Linked DNA regions of Homo sapiens: region 2 is linked to region 1. Evidence: fine-mapped expression QTL. A gene starts in region 1. The other region holds a variant in brackets. All regions are shown on one strand. Distances are between the middles of the regions.

Region 1 (11,404 bases):
CCTGAGGTCAGGACTTCAAGACCAGCCTGGCCAACATGGCGAAATCCCCGTTACTACTAACAATGCAAAAATTAGCTGGGTGGCATGTGCCTGTAATCCTAGGTACTCGGAAGGCTGAGGTAGGAGAATTGCCTGAAGCCGGGAGGTGGAAGTTGCAGTGAGACGAGATAGTGTGACTGCACTCCAGCCTGGGAGACAGAGCAAGACTCCATCTCAGAAAAAAAAAAAAAACAAAAAACTCTCTGGAAAGTGCTTTTAAAAGACTGTTTGGGTCAGAAAATTCTCTAATTTTTCTGGTTATTTGATAGAAACTTAAGCCTCTTTGAATGTCCTCCCCATTCATTAAGAGAAATTAATTACAGAGCTACTGAACACAACATTCTAAAAAAAACACAAAAATATAAAGAGAACATTAAGGTCTCAATGAAAGCGCCATACCCTTAAAAAATGGCATAACTTGTACAGCTCCTTAAAATATTTGAGCCCGAAAGAATTAGGAGACCCTCAATGAAATAATGTATGCTTCTAATAGTGAATTTTAAAAGTCCAGAAAGCCCTTGTGTGCTTGTCTTATTGAAATACTCAGAAAGAGACAATGAAGGATAATCTAAAATTACATACCTCATGTCAGTTTTCATACCCACCAGAAGCCAAACAACTCTAGCCAGACAATTTTTCATTCATTCAATTCTTGAATTCATCAACAACTATTTTGCAGACAAGTTTTTCCTATAATGTCCTCTTATGTACAACTCAGCAGAAACACTGAATACAAAGAGGCATGTTTCCTACGTGTACAAGAATTCACATGAGCTTGAAAATGTTTTCACTTGTCTTCTGGGCTTTGATGGGATGGCATCCTATTAAGCTACTGATATTTAGGTCAAAGGAATGTGAATAAACCCTCCATGAGAGGAAGGACCTCATCTATCTCATTGGCTGACGCATTCCCAGCGTTTAGGAGTCTGGCACATAGTAGGCAAGCAGTATTTGTTGAATAAGTGAATGGATTACACCTGTGTGTTCCCTCTTTGGGAGAAGTAGGGAAAAGCAGATGAAGTGCAATAAATTCCTAGGCCAGATGGGGTCTATGAGATTTCTGGCAACTGCGTGAAAATCATTGCTAAAGCTGATTCAATAGCTAATGTCAACAATGTTGACATACGCTGTTAACTAGTATGAGAAGCTGATGCATAAAAATGAGTTTACAAGTTTACTTTGGCAATTAATTACTAAGCCATTACGTTTCATCTTCGCACATCTTATGAAGTGGGTCAGATTTATTACGCAGAGCAGCCATCTCTCCCCTCTAGTTCCTTTCCTGCCAATCACACTTAGCCTACCGCAAGCTGTTTTCTGCCCCCAACACTGCTCCAGTCGAGGTGACCAATGACCTCCAGTTGCCCAACATCATAATACCACTGACATCTCAATAATATTCAACATAGTTAACCTGTCCCAGTCTCTTCCCTGAGCTTCCTGTTCCACTTACTCTCCTATTTTTTTGTTTTTGTTTTCTGTGACGAAGTTTCGCTCATTGTCCAGGCTGGAGTGCAATGGCAGGATCTTGGCTCACTGCAACCTCTCCCTCCCAGGTTCAAGCAATTCTCCCGCCTCAGCCTCCTGAGTAGCTGGGACTACAGGCGTGAGCCACTATGCCCAGCTAATTTTTGTATTTTTAGTAGAGACAGGGTTTCTCCATGTTGGCCAGGCTAGTCTCAAACTCCTGACCTCACGTGATCTGCCCACCTTGGCCTCCCAAAGTGCTGGGATTACAGGCATGAGCCACCGCGCCCGGCCTGTCCTGTTTTAACTTTGGCAATTTCTCCTCTTCTTGACACATACATGTGCAAGTTACTTAGCCTTTGCCTAGTTCTCTTTTCTTCTCTTTCTCTATCCTATTTCTAGGTAAGTTCATCTGCTCCAAGGGCTTCAAATATAATATCATTATGCCAGTGACTCTCAGTGTCTCTCTTCTGAGTGCCAGTCCGAGTGGCCTGCTGGATGCCTCTCTGCCACCTGAAATTTAACATACACCCCAAATGAAAACGATCCTCATTCTTTAGCCCCCAAGCTTTCCCCTCCCCATGTTTCCTGGAACGGATGCCACCATTCGCCCAGCGAAGCACTTCAGCAATGTGCAGGTCACGCTGACACCTCACTCCCTCATCCTCACCCAACGATTCCTTCAGCTCATTCGCCCTCCTGATTTTTTTCTAGAACATCTACTTCTCTCCCTCACCCCTGGCGCCACCATCCTTCAACGCACCCTGTTTTCTTTTCTGGACTAGTCTCCTCATATCTACCCTTGCTGACCTCCAATCCAGACTCATCTTTTTAAAGTGAAAATGTTATCTTGTCTAAAACCATCTAATGGCCTCCCATTGGCTGGTTCCAGATCCTCCCATTTTTTAGGATAAATTTCTGAATCCTTAATAAGAGTCTACAGAACCCTGGATGATGTCATCTGGCGCTATCTCTCCAGACATTTCTTGTGCCACTGTCTTCACCATCATCTCTTAATAGACTCCTAAAAAATTCAATAATGAAGAATAACTCAGGAGGACCTTCACATAGGAATATTGTGAAAAGCCTCAAAAACAAACACACAAAAAATCCTTACAGATGTTCTAAATCAAATGACTTGTTTCCAATTTAAAGCTGCTTCTCATTATTCATATTTATTGAAAGTACTTTTGAAATATCTTTTGTTACCATGAGGCTATAGTTTATCATATAATGACTCCAGTTGAAAAACTGCTTATTCTTCTCAGAGAATGAAGTCACTAAACTTCTGTAAGGTTCTAAAGGTCCTTCAGTGCATGGATCCCAGGATTTTCCAGGCCAGTAAAAAAAAATTAATGAGGCCTTGGCACAGGAGGGTCCAAATTTTTATTCTGCCAAATGGAGATGTTAAAACAAAACAAATTCCATGCACATAACATCTACCTCTGCCGTTATTTTTAAGAACACGTTTGCAACAATGAAAACTTGAAGTCCATACAATCAGAGTAAAGATTAACATTCTAAATTAATAATTTTAGTTTTGCATTCTTATTTTTCCAGTTTCATTGAAAACCTGTGAAAACAGCTTCCCAAAGTGACACCAGTGGCCAGACTAGACTTTGATAATCGCTGTTCTAGATAAGAACTATTATATCCATTGAGAGGTTGTTAATTCTTCTTCTGAAAATAGCTATCAAAATACTTTTGCTAGAATAAATAAAGCTATTGAGAAAGAAGAAAAAACAGCCTCCAACACCTGAAACTGCTCTGAGTCCCACAGCTATCTCTCAATATTATTACAAGCCGATCTGACACTCACAGCCAGGTAAGCTCTGTTTTCCTCCTGGACATCAACAATCCCACAGATACCTACGTCGGATAAGATTATTCTGAGACATGACACACCAAGACAAAGCAATGCCACTTGAAGATTTTCTCTAAGAACAGACAAAAACAAGGGCACCTGCAACGCACAAAACACCAAACATCCCCTTCTCGTGCTAAACAGAATGGCTGTTCCTTCTTTACTCAGTCAGAATTGCCCCACCTTCTAACAGCATTCTATCTACAGCAAAGCCCGGTTCCTCAGTCTTACCCCAAATCATGCAACCGAAGTTCAAATTCTGTAATGGGTTTTTTTCTATAACCTACCGTCCGTCGCTCATGGTGTGTGGTCTCCTTTGCCTCAAAGAACACTAAACCCAATTTGTTCAGCTTATGGTGTGTTCCTGGTGGTCTTTCAATGAAGGGCCCTGACAGTATCAAAGTATCAAAGTCTCTCCCAATTCCCATAAAACCAACTACCGTCAAGCAAATTAATTCCCTACCCACAATGGAGCAATTTTATTTTAAGGCCTTTAATCGTGTCCACATACATGTTCTGTGTATTTTCCTATTACAGGAAAAACTGTATATACTATTCTGGATTCTACTTTTATCTGCTGAACATTATATCAATTTTAATGGCTAAATCATATCCCACCATGATTTTAAAGAATTTCTCCTTACAGGTATAAAAGAAGACAATGCACATCTTGCTTCCACTTTCAATAACCTACCTAAACTATTCAAGACCATCACCATCTAGCCTCAGGCCAGATGCGCCAGGTTCCTACTTATCCGATTCTGTTGGCAAAGACAAACGCAGTCTGATTGCTTTATAAAGAAATGAATTATGAAAGAGTACTGGGCGTCAAGAGGCTCGGACGTTACGCATGTTCAGTAAACAACAGTGTAACCTCTGGCTAAATATTTTCTCACTCTAGGTCTACTTCCTCTTCTGTAAAATGAAAGAGTCACGCTCGTCCCTCACTGTCTCTTGCAGTTAGGAAGTCCGTAGCCCTGTGACTTGCTCGTGGGAAAGAGCCACGGGACAGGCGATCCCATGACTTGGGTGCAAAAGGCCACAGGGGGCCCTTTGGGGCCTGCTCTGGGCTGCTCGCACCGCCCAAGCTTGGGACCACTCAGCGTTTCCCACGGCCCTGCAGTATCCTGGGCTGAACTCCTGAACTTCTTCGGGAGAAAGCACCTGACCATCAGGCAGTCTGTCCTTGATTGAGTAATGCACACAGGTCCACCGGAACATTTTATTTAAACACTTCAAAATGCAAGGGCCTGGAACTGGTTATTCAAGTACACTCACTCAAATCTAAGAATGTGCGAATCACACCCAGGTATCCTGCAGAGACTAGGATTTCCTTTAAAGGAGTTCTAGTTGCAGGTAGCACCGAATCTACCGAGGACGGGGTTCGCCAGCCCGCTCTGCACCCACACCCCTGTGCACGAAACCACAGACCCCCGTAAAGAAGCTGCCCAGCACGAGGTGTTCCTTGTACCCGCTCGCGCCGCCACACCTGCGCCTCCATCCGCGCCCGCACCTGCACGCCCCTCTCTGCGCCTCGGCTCAAGCTCACTCACCGGCGGCGCGTGCTGCGCGACGGCACAGCTGACGGCGGCAGCCAGGAGGACTAAGGCGACGCAACTCCGGCCCGGCATCGCTCTAGCAGCCAACGCCACTCCCCGGACTCCAGCAGAGGCAAAGAAGAGCCGGCTGGGCCGGGGGCAGGCCACGCCCCCTCCGCCGCGTGACCCGCGACCTGGGACCGCACCATTCCAGGCAGTAGGGGGAACGCTCGGAGGAGGCGGGACTGGGAGGAGAGGACGGGGCTTTTCAGTGCCACGAAAAGGGTGGCGTAGAGAAAGAGAGAGAGCCTTCCAGGCTACCTGCAGAAGGAGAGTCGCGATCGCCTTTGGCGCGTGGCGTGATCCATCCCCCTCCCCCACCGCGGGCAATAGTCGGACCGAGCCGGAGCCCCGCCCCGTAGGTGGGGCCGGGAGCTTCACCCGTGGCGCCTCGATGGGGCGCCTCTAGCAGGCGGGTGCAGCCTGTCCCGCGTACCCAGGCGTCCTCGGTACCCACGAAACGGATCCAAAGAGTCTCAACACTAATGTAACATCCCACCCTGACCCATCTTTGCCCTCTGAGAAAAGCGGCCCGAAATGAGTTGAGTTATTCATCCCCACCGCGGAGTCAGGGACAAGGAGCAGTTGAGTGGCCGAGGAGTGAGAGAGAATCGAATCCACTCGGGTCCTCCAAGCTGTTGGTTACCCACTTGGGCTTTCACAGCAAAGCTGCCAAATCCCAGAATTGAGGCCTCGGTGAAAAGCGCGCTGAGACTTGGGTAGGAGGCCCGGTGGGACCCGCGAGCTTTCTCTCCCAGCCCGATGCAGCAGTTCATTAAGCGGCTGTGTTTCCTCCTAACTGGCGAAGGACTCAGGTGGGCGGAGCAGAGCTCAGCTTGGGAGGAGGCGGACGCGAGTAGCTCGGCAGGGGGACTCGCTTGGCTTTCGTGCCATCCGTGGACACAGTCGCGCGGGTAGGTGACCGGGTTGGATTTCAAAGTCCAGCAGGAAATCCTGCCCTCTGGGTTGCACTTCCTGGATGAGCCTCTGACGTCTCAAGCAGCATTGTTTTAATGCTTTGATGAAGCTCAGCACGCTGCCGAAATCTCGGCAGTATTTTTTCTTTTCTTTTTGCATGTGAGAGAAAGGACAACAAATTGCAGTTTTATCCATTTGTATTATTTCTTTAGAAAACTCAACACTCTTTTTGTTGGAGGTGGGGAAATGAGAAGGTGATGTTTTGTTTTGCTTTTTTTCCTATTTTTTTTTTTTAAAGGAGGAGAAGATGACAGTGTTCTCCCTAAGGATGAAGTTTGACTTTTGAAACATATCACATGCTTAAAGCACATTTGAGCTCCTGCATGAACAGTAAGCTAGCAGATGGTAGAAATATTCTTTATTAATTCAAAAAATATTTACTGCGGACCTACAATGTGCCAAGCATGTCTCCTGACACTGGGGATAAGCAGTGAACAACAACAAAAAGACAAACTTCTTCCACCCTGAGGCGTATGTTCTCGGTGAGAAATGGGCAATAAACATAATACCTAAGAAAATTATACGGGATGTTAGTGACAAATGCAGTGGAGGAAAAGGGAGGCCAGGGGCATCAAGTGTGGAGATCAGAAGTGGTAGAGTTACAATTTTAAATAAGAGGGACAGATAGACATGATTAAGGAGGTGAAGTTTGAGCAGACAGTTGAGGGAGACCAGGAAGCTAGTTTTGTGTGTGCCCAAGTAAGAGTATTCTAGGCAGAGACAGCAGCTGTTAAAAGGCTTTAAATGGAGAATGTGCCTGGCATGTTCAATTACAGCAGACGTGTGTGGGTCTGGCACAGAAAGAACAAGGGGAAAAGAAGAAAGAAGTATTAATAGACAAAGTATTTAGTTAAGGAGAGCAGGGCAAATTCTGTAAGGCATTCAGAGCCATTTCACTCCGGAAAAAAAATGTGTAATATTGAATATACGTGTTAAATGTTGAATCTATGGAATTACCTTGGAGCTTAAAATGAGTGTGCGAAGAAGAGGATTCCCATCTTTTAGTTGTTATTACTAAATCAAATAGCTACTTGATTGGAAGATCATTCATCTTCAGTACTCTTGAGAGCGATTTAAACATGTCACCAAGCATATTTTTTTCCCTACTGGAGGATGTTAATTGGTGATTAGGTAGTCTAGCAAAATCAGATTCTTTATGGAAAAAATTTGTCAATTGACATACTATTCTTAGGCACCACTTTCGCAGAACTATGCGTCTAACTTTCAAAGGTCTATTATATATTATTAATACTCTTTTCAGATAAAATATAAATCTAGTTCCCTAAAATTAAACCATTTCATGCATGTCTTTTTTTTCTTACACATATATCTTTATTTTGCCTACACCATTCTTTAATACTAGAAATGTACAGAAAGTCAAGGCAAGGTGTGTGTAGGAGACTTTGCAGTGGTTTTTGGCATACTGATCTGTTCATAGAAAATGGTATTTAAATGTGCAAATGCATGATTATGTCCACGGAAAGGGTGGTTCATACTGCACAAAAGCATCAAGTTTAAGACTTGGATAACCTGTTTCGTGTGCAAGAGTCGGGATATGTAATCAGATTGTTTATGGAATAGCTGAAGTTCTTGGCAAGCTGTGGACTTCCTCATCTCCTACCTAACATTCCTAGGTTCCTGAGGTGGAGCCTTGATTTAAAAGGGTTGCAACTTAGCCACCCCACCCTAAATGAAACCTATCATGTATAACATCACATTACCTGGAACAGGTTTGACTTGATTTAGTAAAACCGAATATACAAAAACGTGTACTAAAAGGTCAAGAGATAGAGAAATAATGTTTCAGTTTGAGAAATAAACATTTTTTTAACTTTAAATATTGACTTTTTTATGAATAAGGAAGCTTTTTATTTTACAGGTCTTTGTGGGAAGAAACAAATCACAAAAGCAATTAAGAGAGCTCAAACAATGGGTAAGAAAGAGCACCTCAACAACTGTATTGAGCTAGCTGAAATTTTGCTCATTATGCTTTGTCAAGAACTTTAATTATCTCTTTACAGGGTTTATGCCAGTTACATACAAGGATCCTGCATATTTCAGGGACCCTAAAGTTTATAACATCAGATATCCGGAATAAATTCCATCACATTACCACCAGTAAACTTATTTTATAGTAAGTGGTTGTATGACGCCAATACTGACTCAAACCAACCTTTGGATAGAAAAGTGTTTCAGGAGTGAGGTAAAGAATGACACTTCCCCTTCATACCAATCAGTGTTCATTAAGCAGATCGCTTATTTAAAATGTTAACACTCATCACATTTTACATATGTTGAATGAAAGTGGTTCTGGGTGATAGTCATTTATATCTGGTCCACAAATAGCTCATACAATGTAGTACACCATTCAACTGAATGGAGTTAAAACTGCTCAGAATGGTTTTCTAACTAGCAAATGTAAGTATGCCTGGTTAAGAGATCTTCCCTTTGTAGGAATGTTACACTGGGATGCATAGTGATGCTGTCACAGCAGGACAAAACATTCCTAGACAACTCTATCCTCAAACCAGTAGTGTCTTTTACATAAAAAGATGATTTACACCTAATAGACAGTGAATGTGATAGACATGTATGTATATATGTATCAGTTCTGAGTTCCACCAGCCTATCCCAAACACACTGGATTACCAGGCTTGTACTGTACTCAAAATTAAGGATTTGCTAAATTTCGTGCAAAGGACTCTAAACTAGGGGAGAGATTATTGTTTGTGTTGCGTTATAGTTGTGTAATAATTAAGGCTGCCAGATTTAGCAAGTACAAATGTAGGACAAATTTAAATTTTAGATCATGTTTTGCAAAGGTACTGCGTGAGATCCAGCATTTTATCTGGCAACACTAGCTGTAATGTACTTCTAAAAAATTATCACCTAAGGATAATTTTAATGACTCAGATAAATTTCATATAAATTTCTTTCCACATTGTGAAAATAAGGCTATTCTAGCTTTTCTAATACTTTTTTTTTTTTTTTAATAGAGATGGGTCTCACTGTGTTGCCCAGGCTGGTCTCTAACTCCTGGCCTCAATCATTCCTGCCTTGTCTTCCCTAAGTGCTGGGATTACAGCTGTGAGCCACTGTGCCTGGCCTCACTTTTCCAATTCTAAAGAATGTGTGTAAGCCTTTCCCTCAACAACTTATTGAAAGGCGAAAAAAGGTTTGGAAATAAAAGGATCTGATGTTTGAAAAAGTACTTTGTAAAATAAATGCACTAAGACTTATCTGTGGATTACTGCAAAGAGGTGAATATAGTAAAAACAAATGAACTTACCTGTATTACTGCAAGTAGCTCAACCTAGTAAAAACAATGGAAATGTTTGACTTTACCCATCAGCCAAATTAAAAAAATCTCCTTTTAAGGTTAAAAGGATCAAAATGTAGGTGACCGTGAATATTCACCAAAACCTTCATCTTTTCAATCTCTTCATCTGTTTCTGGGCTGCTCATTTTGGATGCTTTTTTATTGGTTACTACTATCAGTATCTGTTTTAGATGGTTTGTCTTGTGTGTCTAACAGCCGTGAACACTCTTTTTTTTTTTTTTTTTTCTCCTGAGTCGAAGTATTCCTCTGTAGCCCAGGCTGGAGTGCAGTGGCAGGATCTCAGCTCACTGCAAGCTCCGCCTTCTGGGTTCACACCATTCTCCTGCCTCAGCCTCCCAAGCAGCTGGGACTACAGGCACCTGCCACCACGCCGGGCTAATTTTTTGTATTTTAATAGAGACAGGGTTTCACCATGTTAGCCAGGATGGTCTCTGTCTCCTGACCTCCTGATCCGCCCACCTTGGCCTCCCAAAGTGCTGGGATTATAGTCGTGAGCCACCGCGCCCAGCCAATTTTTTTGTATTAGAGATGGGGTTTCACTGTGTTAGCCAGGATGGTCTCGATCTCCTGACCTCGTGATCCGTCCGCCGTCATCTCTTGAACTGCCATCTGTCAGCTAAGTCTAAGGTTTTATGCTTAACCATTTGTGGTGTACTAGCTGGACTAGCTTCAGGAATGTCAGTGTTTTCTACCATTAAGGTCAGATTGTCTACTACATCGAGATGGTGGTGGTTGTTAGAGCTACCTTTAGAAACATGTCTGTTTTTTTAAAGACATAACACATGCATGAAGAATTCAGAATCTGGAAAAAAGGTCCATAATGTTTGACAAAGAAAAATGTTCTCCTGAGGGTCTTTTTTGGATGCTCTTCTCTCGTTCTGCTGGAATCTGGGCTCATCTCCTTTTTTCAATTTCTCGTTTTAATCTGTTTACATCCTTTACTAGTTTATCTACTGCTTGTTCACTGTCTTCCACTTTTTTGCATATACTCTTTAATTTCTCTTACAATGAAGCATACATTTCATTTATCTTATGTACCTCCTTTAAGGATCCATCTTCTTCAAAAAATTTAGAGCTGTGTGTTTGTACTGCTCGGCTAAAACCAGTGGACATACAGGAACCTGATACAGTTTTATAACCTAGTTGTTCAGACATGCCCAGATTGGCAACCACTGAAGGTACCCTGTGAAAAAGTCCTTTTCGAGGTTTATATAAGGCATGTTCCAGTCGATGAGTAGAGCGGCTTTCTGTTATTATACTTGGTGTTCATAGCAGAAAAACCAGGTCTTGGTTTGAAAAATGCTCCTGCAAGTTTTTGTGAAGCAGCCTCTCTCTAAATGTCATGATCTGATCTGAATGACGATGGAATTTGTAACAACCTACCACATTTTTTGTGAATTTGATAATATTTTCCTCAGTGCCTGCTTATTTACTTCACCTGAAGAATTATAAAAACTAAAAAACTGATAGCATGGAATATATTTCTGAATGTCAATTGTATAAACAACTTCAGCATCATCTATTTGGGAATCAGTAATGCTATTCTTTTTTTTTTTTTTTTGAGATGGAGTCTAGCTCTGTCACCCAAGTTGGAGTGAGGTGGCCCGATCTTGGCTCACTGCAACCTCTGCCTCCCGGATTCAAGCAATTTTCCTGCCTCAGCCTCCCAAGTAGCTGGGATTACAGGCGCCCACCACCATGCCCAGCTAATTTTTTGTATTTTTAGTAGAGACGAGGTTTCACCATGTCAGCCAGGCTGGTCTCGAACTCCTGACCTCAGGTGATCCACCCGCCTCAGCCTCCCAAAGTGCTGGGGTTACAGGCGTGAGCCACCATGCTTGGCCTTGTCTTCTCCCTTCTAATATGAAAGAGGAAGCTAGGAATCCCCATTGCTGCTGGCATGCATGCTATAAACCTGAAGGGAGCCACCTAAGATGAAATTGATACTGTGGACTACACAGTAGAAAGATGGAAAGAAACTGGGTCATTGATGACATTGTCAAGATGCTAGATCAACCAACCACAGATCCTGTCCAACAACTGGACTCTTGATTTACATCAGCCACTACTCTGTTATTGAATCTTGGACAAGTTGGTTTGCTTACAAGTTAAATTATT
Region 2 (11,404 bases), 32 kb before region 1:
TCAAGACCAGGCTGGCCAACATGGTGAAACCCCATCTCTACTAAAAATACAAAAATTAGTTGGGCGTGGCGGCAGGTGCCTGTAATCTCAGTTACTTGGGAGGCTGAGGCAAGAGAATCGCTTGAACTGGGGAGGCGGAGGTTGCAATGAGCCCAGATCGTGCCACTGCACTCCAGCCTAGGTGACAGAGTGAGACTCCAGCGTAGGTGACAAAGTGAGACTCCATCTCAAACACAAACAAACATGAACGCAGAGCCAAACAGAGAATATGGGTAAGAGGTTACCTCTGGGGAGGGGAGTGGAATTTCGAAGAGTGAAGTAAAGGGGAGACTTCTGTTTGTTAAATGTTTTATCAAAAAAGATAAATATATTATTTGCATATTTTAAAGAAAATTTTAAGATAACCTAGCTCAGTGGTTTTTAAATGATTGTACCTGATGAGACAGATAAAGTGTCAGGTAGCTCAGAGATAAGATGAGCTGATAAAAACAGATCTAATGGAAGCTTAAGGTGCTATCTCTGCAAACAAGTCTAAGTGAAATCCTTTATTTTGCCGTACATGGTTCACATAACTTTACTAGTCAAAATTTAAAATTACTATTAAATAAAGTTTGTAGCAATATCTAAAGCAAAGCATGAAAAGATAAGAAAATATTTCTTCTAAATAAATTTGTCATAGGCACATAGACCAAAGGAATAGAATAGAGAACCCAGAAATAAACTCAAATACTTACAGCCAACTGATCTTCAACAAAGCAAACAAAAACACAGTGGGGAAAGGACACCCTTTTCAACAAATGGTGCTGGGATAATTGGCTAGCCACATGTATGAGAATGAAACTGGATCCTCATCTCTCACCTGATAGAAAAATCAACTCAAGTTGGATTAACGACTTAAACCTAAAACCTGAAACTATAAAAATTCTAGAAGACAACATTGGAAAAACCCTTCTCGACACTGGCTTAGGCCAGGATTTCATGATCAAAAACCCAAAAACAATTGCAATAAAAACAAAGATAAATAGCTGGGACCTAATTAAACTAAAGAGCTTTTGCACAGCAAAAGGAACAGTCAGCAGAGTAAACAGACAACACACAGAGTGGGAGAAAATCTTCACAATCTATACATCTGACAGTGGACTAATATCCAGAATCTCCAACCAACCCAAACAAATCAGTAAGAAAAGAACAATCCTGTCAAAAAGTGGGCTAAGGACATGAATAGACAATTCTCAAAAGAAGATATACACACGGCCAACAAACATATGAAAAAATACTCAACATCACTAAAGATTAGGGAAATGCAAATCAAAACCACAATGCGATACCACCTTACTCCTGCAAGAATGGTCATAATCAAAGAATCAAAAATGGTAGATGTTGGCATGGATGCAGTGAGCAGAAAACACTTCTACACTACTGGTGGGAATGTAAACTAGTACAGCCACTATGGAAAACAGTGTGGAGATTCCTTAAAGAGCTAAAAGTAGAACCACCATTTGATCCAGCAATCCCACTACTGGGTATCTACTCAGAGGAAAAGAAGTCATATTCGAAATAGATACTTGCACACACGTTTATAGCAGCACATTTCACAATCGCAAAATCGTGGAACCAACCCACATGCCCATCAATCAACAATTGGATAAAGAAACTGTGGTATGTGTGTGTGTGTGTGTGTGTGTGTGTATATATATATATACACACACACACACACACACACACACATATGATGGAATACTACTCAGCCATAAAAATGAATGAGTTAACAGCATTTGCAGTGACCTGGATGAGATTGGAGACTATTATTCTAAGTGAAGTAACTCAGGAATGGAAAACCAAACATCATATGTTCTCGCTGATATGTGATAGCTAAGCTATGAGGATGCAAAGGCATAAGAATGATACAATGGACTTTGGGGACTTGGGGGGAAGAGTGGGAGGGGGGCGAGGGATAAGAGACAACAAATACAGTGCAGTATATACTGCTCGGGTGATGGGTGCACCAATATCTCTCAATTCACCACTAAAAACTTATGTAACCAAATACCACCTGTACCGCAATAATTTATGGAAAAACAAAATTAAAATTAAAAAAACCTTACACTTGTATTATCACTATTTTGGCACATCTACAGATATTTTAAAATTTTAAAGTATTTTATACAGAATGATACACCAAATAACAATTGCTTTGGTCATGATTCTAATAATCCACTTTAATTTTTTTATTAGCTTGTGTATATTTTATTTTTTTGAGACACAGTCTCGCTCTGTTGCCCAGGCTGGAGTGCAGTGGCACAATCTTGGCTCACTGCAACCTCTGCCACCTGGGTTCAAGCGATTCTCTTGCCTCAGCCTCCCCAGTAGCTGGGATTACAGGTGCCCGCCACCACGCCAAGCTAATATTTGTATTTTAGTAGACATGGGGTTTCTCCGCGTTGCCCAGGCTGGTCTCGAACTCCTGAGCTCAGGCGATCCACCTGCCTCGGCCTGCCAAAGTTAGGATTACAGGCGTGAGCCACCATGCTTGGCCGCTCTTGTATATTTTTAATGCTAGATTTGTCACTGTTCTTACGTAGCTAAGTTGAAAAAAGAAATGCAAGTTAACTAAGCACCTGTACTCAGCCCTTGAAATCTTGGATCCAGAAGAACAGTCTATCAATTATATGATTAAAAAAAATAAGAACTATAATAACTTTTCCTAAACAACCACTTAAGATTTTTAAAAATCCATCATATTAGCTTTTAGCATATTGAGAACTTAAGGAGATGATAGGGAAATATTTTTAATATTATTAGATTATTTTGGCTATAGCAGATTTTCCACATGGAGAATGATTTTAAAAATATTAATTTTTATCTGGTCTATAAGACAGTAGTATTATTCAATACATATTAATATGATCGCTATAGATTTCTATATTCTTTTGGTTAAAAAACCCAGTCAAACAACAAAGGGCTGTCAACTTTTCACAGTCCCTTGTCTTTGACAGCCCTAAAAATTTTGCAGATATCAAAGATCTTTCATAGTGCCTTACTTCCTTCACATTTTAAATATAGGAAAACTGAGTGCCAGAGACAACACCAGAACAAGTCTCAAGTTCATCTTCCCCTATATACACCATTGCTCATTGGCAATGAATGTAATAACTTAAAAACTACTGCATATGTGTCTTTGACAGAGACATATACACACACACACATGAATATGTGTGTGTGTATATGTGTGTGTGTGTATATGTCTATATATTATGAAGTCAGTACCCTTGAAAGCAAACAAGTGAAAACTTTACACATTGTTCCCACCCAGCAACTGTAACAATCAGAAACAAAAATGTAATGAAACTCAACTACTGAAACTTGATTTTCTATAGTAAGACAGTAAACTTAATTCTTTAATAACAGAGCCAATCACTGGGTGTTTGCTTTACCAAGGAATACTTTTTCTCAGTAACTAAGATGAAAAGTCTTACTTATTCCATTTGGTAATATGTATGGTCCATTGTACCGAGCAGGTGAAAAGCAAGAACTGGTGTATGCATCAAGTAATTTCCCCTTGGTTATGGCTCCTTGGCATAAGGCGATTTCACTCACCCACACACAGCCTTGGACATGCATAGCCTTGCAGTTGACTTCTTAGAACTGCTACTTCTTATAATATTTTGAAATAATGCTATCAACCCTGCCTCATTATTTCATATCCACAACATGGGAAGAGCAGAATTTGTGTAGGCCACTAGACTATCATAGAGCATAATGTAAATGTCTTTTTTTTTCTTTTTAATTGAGACAGAATCTTGCTCTGTCACCCAGGCTTGAGTGCAGTGGCGCGATCACAGCTCACCGCAGCCTCCATCTCCCAGGCTCAAGTGCTCCTCCCGCCTCAGCCTCCTGAGTAGCTGGGACACAGGTGCATGCTGCAAAGCCTAGCTAGTTATTTTTTGATTTTTAGTATACATCAAGTCTCACTATGTTGCCCAGGCTGGTCTCAAACTTCTGGCCTCACGTGATGCTCCTGCCTTGGCCTCCCAAAGAGCTGGGATTACAGGTGTGAGCCACCATGCACAGCCTTACTATGTTTTTCTGACATTCAGTGAGGGTTGGCATTGAACTCAGGTACTATGGTTTCAAATTTAAACATATTTACTGTAAATCTGTGTGTGTGTGTACAAATTATATATATATGTGTATATATAAATTGTATATATGTATGAAACTCCATCTCTACTAAAATATACATCATATTTTGTATATGTTATACATGTAGAAACTGTCATTTGCAGCTCACAGGCCACTTTGGAGGCATCTTGGCTACCTGCCCGTGACTGCCCAAACTGCATGTGCTTTCTGCCAAGTAGAGCATCATTTTGAAATACTTGATATGAAAGTTTTGACTAGATTTCACCCATGCATGTGTATGACTAACAAAGACTACAATGGTTCTGACGAGTCCAACCACACCTGGGTGTCGGCTGCTACTGGATTCCCTGCGCAACTGAGACACAATTTAAATCTAGATTTATCAAGCTAGAGGAATCCTTAGAGAAAATTGGATCTAAACCCTCATTTTACAAAGGCAGATATGGGGATGCAAGGAGTTAAGTCATGTGTCGCTGGTCACCCAGGCTGGTGATGAAGCAATGGAAACAATGTGAGATTTGTTACCTTTTGGCCTGTTTGTATGTCCCAGTACATACTGAAAAGGATAGTGTTTGTAAACGAGAGGGGATATATGGACTTGGTGAAAAATTCATTACATTTTCTTTATATTAATTATGAAATGTCTAAGTAATGAACAGAAGATAAAGCATCAGGGGAGATATTACACATAAAAATGCAAAACTATAGACTTTTTTTTTTTTTTTTTTGGACAGAGTTTCACTTTCTTGCCCAGGCTGGAGTGGAGTGGCATGATCTTGGCTCACTGCAACTTCCGCCTCCTGGGTTCAAGCAATTCTCGTGCCTCAGCCTCCTGAGTAGCTGGGATTACGGACGCCCGGCACCTTGCCAAGCTGATTTTTTGTATTTTAGTAGAGACAGGGTTTCACCATGTTACCCAAGCTTGTCTTGAACTCCCGAGTTCAGGCAATCCACCCGTCTCTGCCTCCCAAAGTGCTAGGATTATAGGCGTGAGTCACAGAGCCCGGCCATTTTCTTAACGTGTTTTTATAACCTATTTTCTATTTGAAATTGTTATACACAATTCTTGGCCGAGACTTTATGATCTCCTCAAATTTTTGAAAAATCATTAAGGATCAATTTGTATGCCTAATTGAGTGATAAATTTAAAGCAGTGTTGTACAAGCATTCAAGAATTTACAGAAATTGGAATTATATTTGAAAACTAATTTTTATTTAACTTTCATTGATACATGTACTACTAAATTATCTTGGGAAGAGTTTTGAATTCAATCAAAATTGCCATATCGGCCAAGCATGGTGGCTCACGCCTGTAACCCCAGCACTTTGGGAGGCTAAGGCGGGCGGCTCACTTGAAGTCAGGAGTTCGAGATCAGCCTGGCCAACACGGTGAAACTCCGTCTCTACTAAAAATACAAAATTTAGCTGGGCGTGGTGGTGGGTACCTGTAATCCCAGCTACTCTGGAGGATGAAGCAGGAGAATTGCTTGCACCTGGGAGGTGGAGGCTGCCGTGAGGCGAGATGGCGCCACTGGACCACTCCAGCCTGGGCAACAGAGCATGACTCTGTCTCAAAAAAACAAAACAAAACAAAACAAAACAAAAAATTCCAATGAAGTATTTTAAAATAACAATGCCCTATTTTGCAGAAAGCACTTGAATTGTTAACAACAGTCATAGGCAGCCAGCTGAGATGCCTCCAAATTGGCCTGTCAGCTACAAATGGACACAGTAATCAGATACATGTGAAGTGAATGTTTGGGATGCTGCCTGGAGCTGAATCCACCAGGAGACCGCAGTGCCTATGCGCCTCCCTCCCACCTCTGCAGCAGGGCTGTGTGCGGCATTCTGCGCACCTGGAACATAAACTCCAGTTGTGCCACAGGCCGCTTGTCTGTGAGATCTGCAGGCCAGCTGCTATTGCTCAACCTTGCAATGGGAGCAACAAGTTCCAGGTGTTATTGCTGCCACTGACGACCGGGACGACCAAGCCAAGTTTGGGTCTTGGTGAAAAACAATTGGGGGGGCCCCCAGTGAGGGCTGAATGGTTAAGTTTCCTTATGAGGATTTTGTATTTGACAGAGGCAAAACCTAGTTGGCCCAGGTCTCTTCTGGTCCACAGGGCCAGTGATTTTTACTAACTTTCTCCATACCTTGCATGCCCCACACCTCCCTTCCCAGCCTGTGAGAACACAGAGGGATGCAGTCTATCCCACTCTGTCTGTATTAGTCCGTTTTCGCACTGCTAAGTTATAAAGTAAAGAGGTTTAATCGACTCACAGTTCCGCATGGCTGGGGAGGCCTCAGGAAACTGACAATCGTGGCAGAAGGCAAGAGGGCGGGAGACGACGCCTTCACAAGGCAGGAGAGAAGCAAGTCGGAGAACCAGGAAGCACCACACTTTAAAACCATCAGCTCTCGTGAGAGCTCACTAGCTATCACGAGAACAGCATGGGGGAAACCACCCCCATGCTCCAATCAACTCCACCTGGTCCCTCCCTTGACAAATCGAGATGAGATTTGGGTGAGGACACAGGCCCAAACCGTATCACTGTCCCAGTCTGCCCTTCAAGGAGCCCCAGAGGAAGCCCGGGCTGTGGGAGGCAGCCTGGAGGCTGGTATGCCTAGACCCTGCCCAGCTGCCCCAAAGCTGCGGCCCTGTGAAGGGCCTGAGATTTTACCCTGCTTGCAAGCTAATGACCTAGCCTGCCACAGCTTCCTGGATGCTGGCAGACTCCTGGGCCAAAGGCAAAGGACTGTATT[G/A]CTCTGGGAATGCCATTTGCCCCCCACCCCAAGTCCCCCAAGGAGGTGATGTGTGACAACCCAATTTATGATGTATCATCTGTATCACAGCTGAGGAACCCCAAGCTCAGGAAACCCCTCGAGTTATAAGATGGGCTGCTTCTCCAATCAACTCATCCAACCTTTGCCCTACAGGTAGATGATGATCTTTATTACCGTAGTCAGGAAACAAATCTGTCCTCTGCCTAGACAAGCATCCTTGAAGATGTCCAGAACTGCCACAGAGAATTGCCCAACGCACACCAGTCTAGCATCCCCTGTGCCACCTGGCTGGGAAACCCACTTTATCAACATAAGAGGGACAGAGTGCCCTAGGGAAAAAGAGAGGACTGATTTTCATGTGAGCTGAGCAACCTCCCCAAGTTGTGAAGGTTGAGGAGCCCAGCCACACTTCCCCAGGCTTGTAGACGGGGCCAGCATGCAGCTCGGTGTGGTCTGGAGCCTGCTGGTCACATCTGTCATATGTGAGGCTAAGCTGGCAAGTATTTTGTAAATTGTCACCAATAAACAAAAACTATGCTTCACTTTGTGAGACTAACTTCAATAATGACTGTGTGAGGTTTTATAGTGACTTTTTATAAATTTCTGAACTATTCATATTTTTCACGTACTCCTGGGTCACAGCCACAGAAAGACTGAGGAGCTCTTAACGCATTCCCCACAAGCTGAGCACGATTCAGACTCAGGGTAGTCAAAAACAGGTGACCTGTCAGCTCCTAACACCAAAGGGTTTCTGATCCCTATGGGAACATTAATAATTGACACAGAACAAGTAGAAGGCAGTGACACAGTGGTGTCCAGGCTCAGCAGGGTGGCCTGGTCCATGGCAGCAGAAGTGTGGGTCTCATAGGACAGAGCTGTTTCTCAATCCTACTTGTAAAGTCAAGAATTCGGGTGTCATAAGAGCGCAGGAGTTGGACAGACCTGGCTAAAACCCTGGCTCTAAGCCCTTCTGTTAATGCAACTTTCAGCAAGTTACTTCCATGGCTGGCAAGTGTGATTACAAGTGATACCGGGGTTTGCTGAGGAGGTAATCTAGGTCAAGCACCTTATCAATCACAAGGCCTGGTACATAAATGGATAAGCAAGAGCTCTAATTAAGATGAGTGACTGAGGAGCTCGATGTGTGAAGGAATACAGGTAGGATTCAGCCTTCCATTCACAATCAAACTCCCGAAAACTTGGCAGGGAAATTAGATGGAGCCCATGGTTTGGATCCAACCTGGACCTTATTTTTTTATAGTATTTCTAAAAATAGAGTCTCATTAATGTCCAATGGCTACTAAGTTTTGTCCTCTCAAAATTAAAATAGCACTTGCCATTATCCAGTAGGAACTACAGTCAGCATTTTGGTTAATATCCTCCCAGTCATCTTTTGATATTCTAGATGTGTATCTAGTTATGCATAAGTACATATATAAAGTGTTATATAAACAGGCTCATCCTGTATATCCTATTTTAAAACTGCTTTACCACTAAACAATTACTTCCTAAAATCTTAATACCTGTTATTTCTTGTAAACTTTGATTTACTCCGGAGAAATCGGTCTGAAACAATTAGCATCTCACCTCTTTACTATCAGGCATATCAAAGGTTATTACATTAACAAAAAAATACATCAAGTTGACCTGACTTCATTTATGTAAGAGGTAGAAAATCTGAGTAAAGTTTTTTTTTCATTAATTAAATCCTATTTTAATGTAAATCCTCTTATAATTCCTCGTTTCACTAAAGTAATCTTGGAATCACTAAAGTTTTGTGGAAGCACCACCTATCTGGGGGAAAAACTGCCTTTAAACACCTGCAAATTGGGTTGATAGTATCTGGTTAAGAGGTGGTATCAGTCATGTAAGAGTAAGATTGTGACCGTTTAGTCATATTTAATAACCCACTTACATAACCCTTGTTATTTAATTCAGATACGATGTTCAGCTTGTATTTCTTGATAATAACCCCCCTCCTCCAAACCAACACAGATGTACACACCCAATCAGCGTGCATGACTGCTGACTGGCACTCTTTCCAGTGACTGTTTATTGAGTGTCAGGAACACAACTGTGATTATACAAAATGAAGTGGACAAACGGTCTTGCACAAATGACGTACATTTCACAGTTAATCGTGAAGGTTAGAAAGGTTAACAAGTTCTATTAGTACTTTTCATAAGCAGTTTGATTTCTGAAAAATACAGTAACATAATTTTAGTAACTACTAAAATTTCTTTAAAACTCCCTATCAATCTGAAGAACAAACTAAAAACCTGTTTATTACATGAATGCTACTTATGAGAATTTAAAATATGGGTTCACTTCCTATTTTCCACAAGTCTTTGACTTGTTTATTTACTAAATTAACAGAACGTGGGATGCAGTTTTTTAAGTTAGCAACTTCCTTAGGGTTACTGGGAAGTAGAGTAATTATGAAAAAGGGAACACTTCAATTATTGTATAAAAGATTGCTTTGCATACTGATTACTTCTTGAACCCCAAAAAGTGCTATTTAGAGGCAAGGGCCCATTTTGTGCCCATTAAAAGAAATATACAGGTGAATGTCTGTCTCATCCCTCTAATCATATGTAATAAAATTATATCGCTGTCAATAACAGCAAAGATAATGATATATTAATTTTAACAGCAGTTAGAACCAGAAGGAAAAGGCTGTTATACAGAAAAACATACAAATATGTAGGTAGAAGTGAAAAACTGAAGAATGTGGAGTGTTTACTGTCCCGTTACTCACACAGACGTGCTGGATTCAACACCCACGCTGAATCTCCATTTATTCCACGGAGGTGGAGTTCACCATGGTTCGACTGCCCACCAGATCCCCAAATGTCAAAGTGAAACAAAACTCAGTGAATTCTAGATGACTGTTTTACTTCCCCTAAAGAAGTTATCTGTAAATAAGAAAAATCAACTGATAGGGGGAAAAAAAAAAGATCTGTCATTTGTCAACAGATGGACGAAGACAAGCTATTGACTCAAAGAGAACCTGCCGCGAGTCTTAGTCTTTGGAAGGTCAGACAGCTGCAGTGTTCGGTCACATGGAGATGGTGTCTTCATGTCTCAGAGGCCGCATTCTGTAGGCCAGACGTGTGCTCACCAACCTATACAAGGGTCAGGGCAGTCCCGCAGGTAAGTTTCGAATTGACCTTTGGTAACATCTATCAAGGTTGTGTATACGGTCAGCTGAAAGAAAAGTTATTTTTACTTTAAGGACGTTTTCAATTCAGAGATGTTCTGATATATATTAGCATTTCTATACTTGTAGAATTTGCTTTAGAAGTTATTTAATATTAAATAATATAACTTAATATATGCAAAGCATGTTATATAATGTATATATTTATATTAATATAGTATAATCATATAAAATTAGCTAAAGTCTCACCAAATAACTAAAGCAAACAACTTCAACAGGATCACTGTTTCAGGTAATGAATATAAACAGGCTCAGGAAAGAATCTCCAGCTCCTTATAGGAGCTTATTCCTGACAGCACATTGCTCCACCCCCAATGCTTTAAGACTGCCTTAACCCTCCTTGACGCACAGCTGGCAGTCCTGGGAGACCTGCCGGTGTCCTATGGAGTAAAAACCGTGGAGCTTTGGCTATCCCTATCCTTAAAGCATTTCCAATACAGTGGGGGAAACTGCAGGCACCCAGATCACAAGGCACACACCCAAACACAAGTCACGAGATTGTGACTTGCTCAAAGATGGTATAGGCAAAACGCAAGTATGGCAGGGCCCGTGAACTGAAGGCAGGCTTCCTGTGAGAGCCAGGGTGACCTGGATGCTAAAGGCCGGAGGGATTTGTCCTGGCAGGGTAAAGGCGGCATGTTTACTTTAGGGAGAGCTGTGGAGAAGGACCAAGAAAAGAAGGAACAAATGGGAAAATTAGGGGGGCATATTCAGAACGTTCAGGGAATGATTGTTAGCGAGTGGTGGGATGATAGGAAACTTTTTGCATTTTTTTAAAACTACAGTGTAGGGAAAAGATAAACAGATGTAGTAAAGTTTAAGGGAAACCCGAACCCACCAAGACACAGAGCTCTGTCTGAAAATGGACTGCAGACTTTGTTTTGTTGACATTTAGGTGTTAGTTATATAGTGTGAGATTTTTAATAGATACCAATAAGAGTAAAATGCTAGCCTTAATTCAAATGCTATGTAAATAAAGCTATAAACAATATTCTGACCTATCAAGCCTCAGTGATCAATTTCTTTCTTGTATTCCAAAATACAGTTTTAGCCACACAAAAACATTTTTTAATAAAAAATCAGTCCTAAGCTGAACACACCTTTTGTGCTCAAACTGATCAAAGATAACAGAGAAAGATAAAACATAGGGCCAAATTCTTTCCCTAAAAGGCAAATATACATATAACATTTAAAATACCTTGTTGAGGACAGGTTTTGTTGACAGGACATCATACATGGTTTCAAATGAGATATTCT

What was found. PIP is the estimated chance that this variant, and not a neighbour inherited with it, causes the effect.
Region 2: its variant is fine-mapped to the expression of ASAH1 in whole blood (INTERVAL, PIP above 0.99). The same link has a PIP of 0.9 or more in blood mononuclear cells.

Annotation. Positions count from the first base shown.
Region 1 is chr8:18,079,058-18,090,461 of GRCh38, forward strand. It overlaps ASAH1 (N-acylsphingosine amidohydrolase 1), which reads right to left and starts at 5,050. Exons shown (of 14, transcript NM_177924.5): 1 at 4,924-5,050. The coding sequence starts at 5,001. ASAH1-AS1 (ASAH1 antisense RNA 1) reads left to right here and starts at 5,811. Exons shown (of 5, transcript NR_125429.1): 1 at 5,811-5,882; 2 at 6,185-6,428; 3 at 7,826-7,879; 4 at 7,968-8,080. It also overlaps the pseudogene MRPS18CP3 and the pseudogene ABRAXAS1P2. RefSeq lists enhancers at 4,507-4,616, 5,417-5,696, 5,497-6,032 and a silencer at 4,967-5,166.
Region 2 is chr8:18,047,490-18,058,893 of GRCh38, forward strand. ASAH1 (N-acylsphingosine amidohydrolase 1) reads right to left here. Exons shown (of 14, transcript NM_177924.5): 13 at 11,346-11,402; 14 at 8,503-10,134. The coding sequence ends at 10,045. Among named protein-coding and RNA genes, the nearest start is that of ASAH1, 31 kb to the right of the region's middle. RefSeq lists an enhancer at 6,127-6,700. The variant G/A (reference allele first, on the strand shown) is at 6,907.